3 separate regions of the Homo sapiens genome follow, and all the other regions are linked to region 1. Evidence: fine-mapped expression QTL. A gene starts in region 1. Each other region holds a variant in brackets. All regions are shown on one strand. Distances are from middle to middle. Region 1 holds the start of CNNM4 (cyclin and CBS domain divalent metal cation transport mediator 4). Region 2 has its middle 13 kb from the start of ARID5A. Region 3 overlaps FER1L5 (fer-1 like family member 5).

Evidence for each region. PIP is the estimated chance that this variant, and not a neighbour inherited with it, causes the effect.
Region 2: its variant is fine-mapped to the expression of CNNM4 in whole blood (INTERVAL, PIP 0.93).
Region 3: its variant is fine-mapped to the expression of CNNM4 in monocytes (TOPMed, PIP 0.98).

Annotation. Positions count from the first base shown.
Region 1 is chr2:96,759,572-96,762,326 of GRCh38, forward strand. It overlaps CNNM4 (cyclin and CBS domain divalent metal cation transport mediator 4), which reads left to right and starts at 1,331. Exons shown (of 7, transcript NM_020184.4): 1 at 1,331-2,755. The coding sequence starts at 1,429. RefSeq lists enhancers at 769-818, 1,378-1,967, 1,839-2,088, 1,968-2,556 and silencers at 1,149-1,568, 1,692-1,875.
Region 2 is chr2:96,522,387-96,525,141 of GRCh38, forward strand. No RefSeq gene overlaps it. Among named protein-coding and RNA genes, the nearest start is that of ARID5A, 13 kb to the right of the region's middle. RefSeq lists an enhancer at 1,962-2,481. The variant C/CA (reference allele first, on the strand shown) is at 1,148.
Region 3 is chr2:96,685,046-96,687,800 of GRCh38, forward strand. FER1L5 (fer-1 like family member 5) reads left to right here. Exons shown (of 53, transcript NM_001293083.2): 21 at 284-384; 22 at 895-1,072; 23 at 1,150-1,305. Among named protein-coding and RNA genes, the nearest start is that of FER1L5, 44 kb to the left of the region's middle. RefSeq lists an enhancer at 873-1,598. The variant A/G (reference allele first, on the strand shown) is at 1,058.

The DNA.
Region 1 (2,755 bases):
TCAGTACTGGCAAAAGATTTGCTGTGAGACCTGGTGGTCAACCCAGTACCTGATCTTCTCTGTGCACCTGTGCAATTATTGTAAGGATGTTTATCTGTCTGTCTTCTTCCCCCTCACAGGGCGGGCAGCTGTGGTCTTCCTTATACACCCTACTGACACAGGGCTAGGGCCATTCAGGAAGCAGTCATTTCAGGGATAGGCCCACTGCCGCGCCTGCCTGCTCATGTCCACAAGCAGCTGCCCAGCTGATCAATCACCACAATTTGGGGTTAGGAGTTTGGTCCTGGAAGGCAGGTAGCAACAACTACTACCTAGCCAAAGAATATTCTAAAGAGCTGTCCTGTCATGTTCAATGTCTAGGTCCACAATCCCGCAAGCTTAGCGAAGTAATGCTCTGTCATTCTTACCCCCATTTACAGATGGAGAAATGGGCTGGGAGATGACAGTATGGAGGCACCAGGATTTTTGTCTCGGCTCAATTTCTGCATCTCTAAATGGAAATAATTCTACTAACTCTGAGGGTTGTTGGGGGGATTTAATGAATATATGTGTTTACTTGTTTATCTCCTGTTTTCTGTTCTAGACTGTAAACCCCAATGGGCAGCGACTTTGGCTTGTTCACTGCTCTATTGTCAGAGCCTAGAACAAGTGCCTGGTACAAAGTAGGTGTTCAATAAATATCTATGCCTAAATGGAAGAGACAGGAGAGAAGTCTAGGCCAGAGCCTGCCCCTTCTATAACCTTAGTTCCCCAGATTTGCCTTCCACATCAGGCAGCCACTGGTTGATGGAAGCATCGTCGGGCTGGGGCTGGGGCTGGGGTAACCTACTTCTGGCCTTAGGACAAGGTCGGCAAAAATCTCAGCAGTGAGGAGGCCAGAAAAGTCTCCAAGGGGCAGGCTGCAATGCCAGCCTAAGCCCTCAGGTTTCCTTTTTCTTTTTCTACATCAGGAAAAGCACTTTTCTCGCCCTGCCTGCAGAGCGGGCCACCCCTAGCTGCAGGTGAGGGACGGGAGAGGAGCCTCCCACGTGCGGCCGTGCGAGGCCGAGGAACAGGAACGGCGTAGCTAGGAGACCAGGTCCCGGAGAAGGAGAGCTGGCCCCACTGGCAGAGAAAGGCGGGGAAGGGCGCGGAGGCGGAGCACTGGGCGGGTACCCGCTGGCGGCTCTCGCGCGGCGGCGCTGCTCCACCTTAAGCGACTGTACCCCCTTAAGGGCGGGCGCTCAAGCAGCGAGCCCCGGGGGCGGGGCCTCCAATGCAAATGAGGGGCGTGGGCAGGCGGGGCGGGGCGGGCGGGGCGCTGACCTGACGTCAGGCTCGCGGCCCGGGCAGTTGGCTCGGCGGCAGCGGAGCGGCCGGAGCTGCGGTGCGGACCGGGGCCGCGCGGCGTGGCGCGGGGAGCGGCGGCGGCGGCAGAGCCAGAGCAACATGGCGCCGGTGGGCGGGGGCGGGCGCCCGGTCGGCGGACCGGCCCGCGGGCGCCTCCTCCTGGCGGCGCCGGTGCTGCTGGTGCTGCTGTGGGCGCTGGGGGCCCGGGGCCAGGGCAGCCCCCAGCAGGGCACGATCGTGGGCATGAGGCTGGCGAGCTGCAACAAGTCGTGTGGGACGAACCCGGATGGCATCATCTTCGTGTCCGAGGGCAGCACCGTGAACCTGAGGCTGTACGGCTACAGCCTGGGCAACATCTCCAGCAACCTGATCTCCTTCACCGAGGTGGACGATGCCGAGACCCTCCACAAGTCCACCAGCTGCCTCGAGCTCACCAAGGACCTGGTCGTCCAGCAGCTGGTCAACGTGAGCCGCGGGAACACGTCCGGCGTGCTGGTGGTGCTCACCAAGTTCCTCCGGAGGAGCGAGAGCATGAAGCTGTATGCACTGTGCACCCGGGCCCAGCCCGACGGGCCCTGGCTGAAGTGGACGGACAAGGACTCACTGCTCTTCATGGTGGAGGAGCCTGGGAGGTTCCTGCCTCTCTGGCTGCACATTCTCCTAATTACGGTGCTGCTGGTGCTGTCGGGCATATTTTCTGGCCTCAACCTCGGGCTTATGGCCCTGGACCCCATGGAGCTGCGCATCGTGCAGAACTGTGGCACCGAGAAGGAGAGGCGCTATGCCCGCAAGATTGAGCCCATCCGGCGCAAGGGCAACTACCTTCTCTGCTCGTTGCTCCTAGGGAACGTGCTGGTCAACACCTCCCTCACAATCCTTCTAGACAACCTCATCGGGTCCGGCCTCATGGCGGTGGCCTCCTCCACCATTGGCATTGTCATCTTTGGGGAGATCCTACCTCAGGCCCTGTGCTCCCGACATGGGCTGGCTGTGGGTGCCAACACCATCCTTCTCACCAAATTCTTTATGCTACTCACCTTCCCCCTCAGTTTTCCCATTAGCAAGCTCCTGGACTTTTTTCTGGGCCAGGAGATTCGCACTGTTTACAACCGGGAGAAGCTGATGGAGATGTTGAAGGTGACGGAGCCCTATAATGACCTCGTGAAAGAGGAGCTCAATATGATCCAGGGTGCCCTGGAACTACGGACCAAAACTGTAGAGGATATCATGACCCAGCTCCAGGACTGCTTCATGATCCGCAGCGATGCCATCCTGGACTTCAACACCATGTCGGAGATAATGGAAAGCGGCTATACTCGCATCCCGGTGTTCGAAGACGAGCAGTCCAATATTGTAGATATTCTCTACGTCAAAGACTTGGCCTTTGTGGACCCCGATGACTGCACCCCCCTCAAGACTATCACTC
Region 2 (2,755 bases), 240 kb before region 1:
AGGAGCTCAGGCACCATGGTGGGCCTCTATGTGCCCCAGGATGCTGTCTCCAGGTGGACAAAAGTGAGTCTAAGGGGAGTGGGACATCAAAGCAAGCACTTCCTCATCCTATTGCAGGCCCTGTGCCAGCGTGGCAGGTCTCCGTATGAAGGCTGGGGGCCTGGGGCAGGCTATGGGGAAGAAGAGAGAGAAGTGAGAGGCAGGGACAGACTGAGCTGGAGCGAGAACGAGGAGGGACTGCATACAGATGTGGTCTAGAGATAGCCTTTGCCCCCATCCCAGAAACCAAAGCCTACAATGCTCTACCCTCAGTCTACAAGGCTCTGTCCAGCCCAGCACCAGGTGCTCCTCTCAGCAGCCCTGAGCAAAGGGCAGGAGGCAGGTTGTAAGCCTAGGGACTGCACCAGGCTGACTTTTCACACACTAGTCTCATTGCATCTTCATATCATCACCCAAAGGTAAGTATTTCCATTTTACAGGTAAGGAGAGTGAGGCCCAGAGATCTAAGTGGGCTGCCCAAGGCCATCCAGTAAGGGACAGGGCTGGGGTTGATCTGACTCTGAACTCCATGCCCTTTCACAGGACTGTACCTCTGACACAGGGCACCAGCAGGCACCCAGGCCTCATCCCTGGGCGGATAGTGCTACACCTGTGGGGGCAAGGCAGCGGCCCTGCAGGGGTAGGTGCCTGGTTGCCACCCTCCCCATCTGTGGCTGCTTCCTCCCCCTCCACAGCCAGCAGGAGCAGTTTCATGGAGCTGGGAGTCCCGTGGGCTCCCCACTTCCAGGCAGCTCCTCAACTCTTCAATCTGGATCTATCTGGGGGTGGGTCAGAAAAGGCTGCCTCTTGGACCAGGCGCAGTGGCTCACAGCTGTAATCCCAGCACTTTGGGAGGCCAAGGTGGGCCGATCACTTGAGGTCAGGAGTTTGAGACCAGCCTGGCCAACATGGTAAAACCCCATCTCTACTAAAAATATACCAAAAAAAAAAAAAAAGAAATTAGCTGAGTGTGGTGGCGCATGCTTCTGCAGTGGCAGCTACTCAGGAGGCTGAGGCACGAGGATCGCTTGAACCCAGGAGGCAGAGGCTGCAGCGAGCCAAGATAGCACCACTGCACTCCAGCCTGGACAACAGAGTGAGACTCCAT[C/CA]AAAAAAAAAAAAAAAGGAAGGAAGGAATGAAAGGGAAGGAAGGAAAGGGAGGGAGGGAGGGAGGGAGGGATGGAGGGAAGGAAGGAAGGAAGGCAGGCAGGCAGGCAGGCAGGCAGGCAGGAAGGAAGGAAGGAAGGGAAGGAAGAAAGGGTTTCCTAGAATGCACCAGGCCAAGACTAAGACCCAGACCCCTCCCCAGCTATCCCAATCTCCCTGTAGTTGCTGGGGATCCAGAGCCTGTCCTGCTCTCCCCCAGCCCAGGGTGCCCTTCCTGCCTTCTCAGTGGCCGGGGTGCCCCTTTCCCTGTCTTTTTCCTGGCGTGCCCTCTGGCAAGGGAGTGGGTCCTGAGCTGTGTGCAGGGTGCATGCGTGACACAGAGTGGGGTGGAACAGAATCCCAGGAAGGCTGAGCCCAGGCCCTGCCCTTCATCCCCTGGCCCTTTCCCAGAGGAGGCACAACAAACTCAAAGAGAACGTATGGGCTCCAGACCAAAGGTCCTTGGTTCATTGCATGCAGCTCCCACGGCTGCAGCGGCTTTTATGAGAAAGCAGCAAATCATAAGAAAACTATCTCCTTGGGAGGACTTAATTGGGACAGAAACTGCAGATGGATGCCAGATGTGCAACGGCATCCAAACCCGAGTCCCAAATCCCCACAAAGATCCTCAGTCGACTCTCCCGATCCTTTGACCAGGTAATAAGAGTCCTAATAGCAGTAGCAATGGCTCCATTTCTAAAGCACACACGGTATGCTATGCACTGCTTTTATTTCTAGTTCCTTTCATTACCTAGAGAGGCATTGCTCTGCACATTTTACAGATAAGGAAACTGAGGTTACTGAGGTTAGGTAACTCAACCAAGGTCACATATTTAGAAAGTGGTGGAACTTTTCAAAATACTAAGTTGGGGAAATGCTCATCATTTGTAGAAAAATTTTCAATAAGGCATAAGAACACAGGTTTCCAGTTAACCCTCAGTTACCCAGAAAAGTAAATTCCCCAGAACGTCCTGCACATCGTGTATGCCTGTGTATGTGCATGCACTTGAATATTCTGATTAGCAGAGCTCGTGATAAACAGGCCAGACTACAGGGGAAAAAAATGTGCAGAAACCAGCAACCATATTCTCCGAATTCATCGCATGCTTGGAGATCCCCAGGTAAAAAGTTAGCAAAACATACCTTGTTCAAAACAACTGGCCAAGGACGGGATGTGAAGCAGCCACTGCTGCTAGGGGCACAGCATCCATTGGAGTTCCCTCCCCACCCCTAACTGCCCGAGGGCAGCAGATCCAGGGTTGCCCGGCCACCTCCCTCTCCTGACTGCAGTGTGGGAAGAAACGCAGGACGCTGGCAGGCACCAGACCGTGCCCCGCCCCTGATCCACAGTGTGGCTTTGAGCACACCACTTTCCCTCTCTGGGCCTTGGTTTTCCCATCTGTAAAATCAGGGCACAGTGAACTGTAAAGGGCTCGGAGGGAAATTTCATGGACTGGTTGATGATCCCAGGCTGCCGCCCTTTAGGAGAGGTCCTCCCTCCAGAGGGCTCTTGGACCTTGGGGATCCCAGGTGGGAGCCTTCATGGGAAGCGGAAGTGAGCCCTGAGACCT
Region 3 (2,755 bases), 75 kb before region 1:
ATGACTTTCTCATGCCTATGTGGAGGTCAGGGCTCTGCACTGCTTTCCCAGTCTTACCCCATCCCGGCTTCTTGCCACCTGTTTCTTCTGTTGGGAAGCAGGAAGGATGTGGGGGGTTCCTAGCCTCGGAGTTGTGGACAACCTTGAACTGATATCACCAGGTTATCCCTCAAAGTTCCCAAGGTCGTGGCTGAAAACATCTTGGGCCAATCAGCCCTGTGGCCTGTCCAGCTGGGCTCCATGCTGAGGCGGGCTCTCTCACCATTTCTCTCCTGCTGGGCAGAAAGCCAACCTGGACACCCTGAAATCCACGCGGAATCCGAAGGATCCAGCTCTCCTCTACCAGTGGGAGAAACTGCTGAGGGAGCTGGCAGAGGACTGCAAGTAGGAGTAGGGGCACTCCGGGATACAGCTGGCCTGGAGCTGAGCCAGATCTGGGCCTGGGGACTCAGCGCAGTGCCCTGAACACCTCCCCCCGCCCTCCTCGGGGAGGAGCACTGCTCAGACCTCTCCCCAGCGGGAAACCCCAAGAGTCGCTTCTCCCTTCCCATTCAGGCCCCCTGACCGCCCCATCAGAATGGTCCCTGCTACCCCACACCCACACCCGAGGCTCCTCTTAAGCCAGCCTGTCCTCTTCCTCCAGACAAGCCCACATAGCCCCACCTCCCTGCAGGCCCTGGGAGGAAGGGAGAGGACTGGATGAGAACCCAGGGCTGGACACACAGCGAGCAGGCTTCCTATGGAGCAGTGGGAAGGGCTCCTGGGCCAGGCTAGCAGCAGATGGGGGCAGGATCTTGAGGCCAGGAGGGGCACGCTGGCCTAAGGCAGGGCAGGAATGGTGACACTGGGAGGCAGTAGAGAGGTCCAGCCCCTGCTACCCTGTCCTGGCCACAGGCGCCCTCTGCCCTGCATGACCTATCAGCCCAAAGCCACCAGCCTGGACAGGAAGAGGTGGCAGCTCCGCAGCCTCCTCCTGCAGGAACTGGCCCAAAAGGCCAAGCAAGCCAAGCCCAAGGACATGGTGGCCACAGCGGAGGACTGGCTGTACCGCCTCAAC[A/G]CCGTGCTCCCTGAGGTGGGTGCTGCACACACTGGCCTGCAGCAGGGCTGGGAGCCAGCCGCGCAGGGCCTGACATTCTCCCACCTCGGCAGCCCCAGATGGGCCTCCCTGACGTGATGATTTGGCTGGTGGCCAAGGAGCAGCGAGTGGCCTATGCACAGGTGCCTGCCCACTCCGTCCTCTTCTCCCCGGCAGGGGCTCTGCACTCCGGCAGGCTCTGTGGGAAGATACAGACACTCTTCCTACAGGTGGGAATCAGGGACTCCTCAGGGGAGGACAGGGCTGAGAAATGCCCCCAGGGGAGCCCCCTGAACTCGCAGGGCAGCCCCTATGGGGCCTGTTTTCCTGGTCCCTTAACCACATGGAATGGGGTTGAAACAGTCCCCAGAGGAAGAGAGGGGTCTGTGGCTGTCAGCATGTTGGGTGATGCCAAGTCCATGTACCTCCTAAATGTTCCCCAAATCCACCTCCTCGCTGGGCACGGTGGCTCACAGGTAATCCCAGCACTTTGGGAGGCTGAGGCGGGTGGATCACCTGAGGTCAGGAGTTTGAGACCCAGCCTGACCAACTTGGTGAAACCCCGTCTCCACTAAAAATACAAAAAAATTAGCTGGGCATGGTGGCGCATGCTTGTAATCCTAGCTACATGGGAGGCTGAGGCAGGAGAATCGCTTGAACCTGGGAGACGGAGGTTGCAGTGAGCTGAGATCGTGACACTGTTCCAGCCTGGGTGACAGAGCGAGACTCCGTCTCAAAAAAAAAAAAAAAAAAAAAAAACAGAAAACAAATCCACCTCCTCTATCATCCTCATGGCCACCATTTGGTCCAGCCCCTTGTCATCTCTTCCCTGGACCGTGACGGGGTGATCTCCAAAATATTTAATGTCTATAAGGTTTGGTACCAGCCCATCATATCAGATGCAAGCTATAAATAAGACTAAACACCCTGACCACCACCCCCACCCCTGGCTGTGACAGTGGCCTCCCTGCTTCTAATCCTCCCTGGGGGGACGTGGGGGCCACTCCCTCCCCCTTCAGAGACTCCCTGGCTCCCCACTGCCTCCTGGAGAAGGTGCCGCCTTGCCACCTGGCCCCTGGCCCCTGTTCCTGCATCCATTCTCTCTGGCCCATACTCTCAACAGTAAGGACACTCTGGGCTTTCCTGGCCCCAACTGTACCTGCCCTTTGCCCTCTCCACCAACACGCAAGGCTCCTTCCATGACCACCAGAGTCCTTCGCATCCCGCAAGAGCCCCTGAGACATGAATCCTGGCTCTGTGTGGCCCTAGGCCAACTCCTGGCCATGCCCAGCCCTCAGCATGCTGCTCTGTAGAATGGGCCTGGCAATCACCATGCCCTCTCATGGTGGGGTGTGAGGATCCAGGACTATGATGCACACTGGGCAACTGGCACAGTGCCAGCCCATAACAAGCACACAAGGAATGTCCATCAGTCCCATTGTCAACATCCCTGCTACTCCCTCTGTGAGGCACTCCCACCCTCTCTGCTTCATGGCTCCCAGGGTGGAGCCACCCCACTCTGGAGGGCAGAACAGAACTCCATGCCATTCACTTACAGCTCCAGCACTCAGCTCAGTGAGGGCCCCGCTCCCAGGGCTCAGGGGGGAAGGGGCAGGTACAGCCCACTTGGGGGGTGGCCGGGGTGGCGTTCAGGGTGTTTAGTGCCCCTGTGGGACCGAT